2 separate regions of the Homo sapiens genome follow, and region 2 is linked to region 1. The links come from fine-mapping of genetic effects on gene expression. A gene starts in region 1. The other region holds a variant in brackets. All regions are shown on one strand. Distances are from middle to middle. Region 1 holds the start of CCDC152 (coiled-coil domain containing 152). Region 2 has its middle 88 kb from the start of FLJ32255.

The links.
Region 2: its variant is fine-mapped to the expression of CCDC152 in whole blood (INTERVAL, PIP above 0.99).

The regions. Positions count from the first base shown.
Region 1 is chr5:42,755,248-42,758,157 of GRCh38, forward strand. CCDC152 (coiled-coil domain containing 152) reads left to right here and starts at 1,571. Exons shown (of 9, transcript NM_001134848.2): 1 at 1,571-1,638. RefSeq lists enhancers at 1,626-2,127, 2,128-2,627.
Region 2 is chr5:42,903,433-42,906,342 of GRCh38, forward strand. No RefSeq gene overlaps it. Among named protein-coding and RNA genes, the nearest start is that of FLJ32255, 88 kb to the right of the region's middle. The variant C/T (reference allele first, on the strand shown) is at 1,677.

The DNA of each region.
Region 1 (2,910 bases):
CATACATACATGCGCGTGTGTGTGTGTGTGTGTGTGTGTATATATATATATATATATATATATATAAAGAAAATAGAGTTTCTTCCCCCAAGGAGCCAATAATAAATACAGCAAAAGAGGTAATACATCAATTCAGTCTTAACAAATGCCACAGAAAGCTAGCATGTTCCATAGAGTAAGGAAAGGTAGATCACAACTGATTGATACGATCAGTGAATGACTCATGGAGAAGGTAGCATTTTAGCATTTAGGGTCTTAAAATGGGCTTGTTTCAAAAGTTATTATGACATGAGTTACATGGAACATTTTATATTTGCTAATTGGGTAGAACCCGCAATTCAGCAGGTCATTTTCAATATTTCTATGTGTTGCTACTAATGTTAGGGAAAGCTTATTTGAGCAGCAGAGTGAAGACTACAACCCCCATTTTCCACTTTAACCTAATTTTCTTGCCATTATGCCACACTACCTTTCAACTAGTAAAGTATGGGTTATCATATTACTGTTTATATTTTTTCACTTGCCAAATTTTGGAGTCTATCGAAAAATCACATTAACAAAAATAAACCTCCCATCTCCCACTCAGAAAAAAAAAAAAAAGCAGATGAGCAAAGTTGGCAGTGGATTCGCTTTCAAACTATTACTGAACAACATTCAAAAATTCTAATAATTAACATTTCTGAACACTTACTTTAAGCAAGGATCTCCATTAAGCACCTTATAAATGCATCACTTCATTTAATCATCACAACCGTCCTAAGAGGCAGGCTTCTTTTTTTTTTTTTTGACTGAGTCTTGCTGCTGCGGGTCTCGGCTGGAATGCAATGGTGCGATCTCCGCTCACTGCAACCTCCGCCTCCCGGGTTCCAGCAATTCTCCTGCCTCAGCCTCCCAAGTAGGTAAGATTACAGGAGCCCGCCACCACGCCTGGCTAATTTTTGTATTTTTAGTAGAGACGGGGTTTCACCATGTTGGCCAGGCTGGTCTCCAACTCCTGACCTCAGGTGATCCACCCCCCTCGGCCTCCCAAAGTGCTGGGATTACAGGCGTGAGCCACAGCGCCCGGCAGAGGCAGGCATTATAATTAATCTCTTATACAGATGAAGATGCTTAGGTGCATGAAATTAAGAACTTACCCACTATCACCCACGGAAAAAGAGAAGAGTTGGGGTTTGAATCCACGCAAGAGCCCACGCCCTTAATCATTAAGCTACCAAGATATAACTCTGTAGATGGGAAACCATATCTATTAACTGGCTCTGGAATTTTAAAAGGCAATTTTATAAGTTACAAAAATAGATATGGATAATTATTTATTCAATGGAGCTGACTCACAATTCAGAACACCCAATGTGATTTATTCTTTGGTTGGGGAAACAATTATTGATCCGGTGTTGATTCATGTTCTGGAAACCACATGAAAATACCTAAGCAGCCGCAGATGCTGAGCGGAGCTGGGCCAAGTTGGTAAGAACTGCTGGTGGTAGGAGCTCCAGCATAGCGCACAGGGCGGGCCCAGAGAAAGGCGGGCCCATTGTTGGGGGATTCGGCTTCCGGAGGAGGGGACAGCATTCAGGGGTGTACCAGGCCCCAGAGGCAGCGGAAAGGGAGACTGTGGGGAACTAGGAGCAACAGCAGGTACACTCCAAATTCTATTGACGGTTCGAAATTCCCGCTTTCTCCATAGAGATTCCTTTCTTCATATTTCATTACAGTGCTCTGGGTCCATTACAGGCTTTTCTTTTCAGACACCTCTCTCACATCCGCGGGTCCTCGGCCCCCATCCTTTATTTTTGCTAGGCCGCTAAGGACGCTAGAAAGCGATTCGAAACTCCCGCTTTTTCCATAGAGATGCTTTTCTTCTTATCTCCTTACAGTGCTCTGGGTCCATACAGGTTTTTGTCTCAGGCACTTCTCTCACATCCGCGGGTCCTCGGCCCCCATCCTTTATTTCTGCTAGGTCCCTAAGGACACTAGGATGACGGAGAGGGAGCCAGGGGACCCAGGCTTCAGGACTGAGAGTGAATTCTTGAGGGGAGGTGAGGAGGAAAGAGGAGGGACCAGAGCGTGGGGCAGGCGAGCGGCGAAGGACCAACTGTGTGGGGTAGGGGAGAGGACGAGCCCCGGGACTCAAGCCAGCAGACAGGAGGACCCAAAAGGAAACGGAACTGTCACGCTCCTGTGGGGATGGTTGAAGCCAGCAGGCAAGAAGACAAAGAAGGAAATGGGACTTTCACTTGCCTGTGGGGACGGTTGAAGCTGAGCCTTGAAGGTCACAAATCAGTCTCTGCGGCTCACTAAGGAATTTGACAAGCACTGAATCACCAGCTTGACACCGAATTTCACAGGGCAAGACCATATTCACTGAAAGGATCTTGACCTAAGAAATCAGAAGAGCAGGCAATGAAGATACCTAGAAATGAATTGCCTGGCTCTGCCATTATGGCAAAAGGGATATCATGCAACGATAGCAAATGGAATATTAGTGATGGTTTTACAAGGAAATAACAGGGTCTTCTTTGGGGGAAGGAGTTGAGAGAAAATCAAGCTCAAATTTAAATGCATTTATTTCAAGAGCCAGATTCTGAGACAAAACCCTAGTAAAACCTTTTTTATTTAAAAGGTTAGGTACCAAAAAAAAAAGGTGGGGGTGGAGGGAGTTTCCATTAACTACTTCAGATTACTATGTAGCACTATTAAAGAATAACAGTACTATCAAACAGCAATTATTTTTAATTTTACTCCAAAAGGAATTTTACTGTATCATGGGAGGCTATTAACAAATATTTTTCTGCTGTAAGGATCAAGTTTTAACTATTTAAGGGATTTTATATGTAGTTGTGCTTGCATATGTCATACATAAGATAATAATTCGAGATAATAATTCAAGAAACAAAATATACAGCCAAA
Region 2 (2,910 bases), 150 kb after region 1:
AAGGCTGGCAGATGACGAGGTCAGGAGTTCAAGACCAGCCTGACCAACATGGTGAAACCCTATCTCTACTAAAAATACAAAAATTAGCCGGGGGTGGTGGCACGCACCTGGAGTCTCAGCTACTCGGGAGGCTGAGGCAGAAGAATCGCTTGAACCCGAGAGGCAGAGGTTGCAGTGAGCCAAGATCATGCGACCGCACTCCAGCCTGAGTGACAGAGCAGGACTCCATCTCAAACACCCACCCACAGACACACACACACACACACACTCAGTACTAGCCTGAGTCATTTACCTCTTTTCCTAGTTCAGCTACATGGCTGGCCTCATCACAAGGCTGAACCCATGGAGTTCTGTCCACCAACCCTGGAAGAACAGTCTTGGAGGTAGGCAGGTCCAGAGTGCTTGTCACATGCCACCAGGACAGGACCAAGAACAAACCTGTGCCTGGGCACTAGATCACTTGCTGTGCTGAACACCACTCCTGCCAATGCCCTTTGCTCTGTGAGGATGTAAAATCAGGTGTGTGTGGGCTGCTGTTTTGGGTTTCCAGCAGGCTCAGAGCTGTTCTCAGACTCAAGAGGGACCCAATCGCCATCAAAACCCACATGTCCAGAAGTCAGTGGCTGAAACCACAAAGTAGCTCCAGTCGCTTTAAGACAAGATGGATTAGGCCAGGCATGGTGGCTCGCGCCTGTAATCCCAGCACTTTGGAAGGCTGAGGCAAATGGGTCACCTGAGGTCAGGAGTTCGAGACCAGCCAGGTCAACATGGTGAGCCCCGTCTCTACTAAAAATACAAAATTAGCCAGGCATGGTGGTGCATGCCTGTAATCCAAGCTACTTGAGAGGCTAAGGCAGGAGACTCACTTGAACCTGGGAGGCGGAGGTTGCAGTGAGCCGAGATCGCGCCATTGGCCTCCAACCTGGCAACAAGAGCGAAACTCCCTCTCGGAAAAAAAAAAAAAGATGGATTCTGCCAATAGCAGGGTTCAGTGGGTCCCAAACCAGCCAGGAGATGCCAGCGCTTGCAGAGCTGAACAGACACATACCCAGGACGTCTCCTTAAACTGCTCACAATCAAGGCTTGAAATACTGAAGAACCCTGAAAGGGAAAAAAAACTTTTCTTGCTCATTACTCACAGTGAGATAGGAGTTTGGCAGGACTAGTTTCTCAAGACAAACAGGATGCTAGGTCCCCAAGACACAGGTCACAGTACCCGGTACAAGATTCCTTAAAAAAAATTTAAAAATTGTTTTAAAAAAGCCCAAACCAGCTAGAAGGAAAATGGCATAAAAGCTACCTCTGGTTACCTTCATTGCTCGTTATATGCTAATTATTATGCATTGGCATGCTAAAAGACTACCACCAGAGCAATGACTGTTTATAAGTGCCATGGCAATCCCCAAGAGTTACTCTGTATCTTCTGTAAGGTAGATAAACCCCCGGTCCACAAGCTCCTGCCTCTTTCCCAGATAACTAAAGAAATAGTCGACCCCTCATTTAGCATATAATCAAGAAATAGCCATAAAATAGCCAGCTAGCTGCCCTGTCCCTTGGTGCTACCCTGACTACGGGGGTAGCCTTCTTTTTGTTTCCTTAATACACTTGCTTTCACATTACTCTTTTGGCTTGCTCTTGAATTCTTTCTGGTACAAGCAAAGTATCCACTTGGCTTC[C/T]CTGGCTGAATGCCAATTCTGGGGGTATCCTTGCATCAACAGCACCACTGCCTTCAACCAATGCCCTGGAAGGAGCTCCTCACACCCCAGTGGGGACCCTCATGATGTTATTGTAAACTTGCTTGGGACTCTGCCTTCTAGATAGAGGCAACAGGAGCAAGAAGTTTCTATGTTGGAGATCATTCCTTGTTTAGTTCTTCCTCTCCAAAGTACTAGGAGCAAGAAGTCTATGATGGAGATCATTCCTTATTTAGTTCTTCTTCTCCAAAGTACCTCAAAGATTTCCAAATTATAAAAACTATCTTTGTGTAATCAAGAATATGCTAAGGAACTTTACTTCTAGATAGACTCAGAATTCATGGTAGATGGTAAATTTTGTTATATGTATTTTACCACAATAAAAATAAATAGAAAATAAAAGACAAGAAGGAAATGAAAGAATTGAGTGACTACCACTGCCCTGCTTCTCACTAACATCCCAAGTTGTCTTTGAGGACACACCTCTCCTCAAGCTTTTCTCTGCCTGGAGAACAAGATTGCAGTCTCTGCTCCAGGACTAGCAATGTGGTTTGGGGCAATAATAAACTATTAACCAGGGTTCCTCAAAAGAGCTTTCCCTCCACAGGTTAAGGAGTACCTTTTCTTTTTATCACTTAAACCACCCTATCACAGATTGAGTTTCGTCTAAGATGTTAGGGTTTTATGTTAATACCAGTAATTCCATCTTCTGTTACAATTTGCTTCTAGAATTAATATCACCACTATGCTTCCTATGATCTGATTAGGACCAGGCACTTGGCCAGAAAAGTGTAAAAACTCAAAAGCTGATGTCTCCTGCTGTGAGACTGGATGAAACACCTTTTCCCTTGTGTTCAGGAGCCCTTGGATTACACAATTCCATATTGCTTTCAGATTGGCCAGCCCAGAGGAAATCTTAGCAGATAATCTAACCTGGGTGTTGCACACAGAGGCCACCCTGAGGGAGCCAAAGCCAGGGCTGCATTCATAGTCCCTTTATCCCCTAGACCTTCAAAAGGTTTCAAATTGAAATCACGATCATGTCATCTAAGATAACAATTAATTTCTCTTTACAATTAATTGCCATTCAGGGATGTTGTGGTTTGAATATTTGTCCCTTCTGAAACTCATGTTGAAACTTAATCCCCAATGTAGCAATATTGAGAGGTAGGGCCTTTAAGCAGTGATTGGGTCTTGAGGGCTCTGCCCGTTTGAT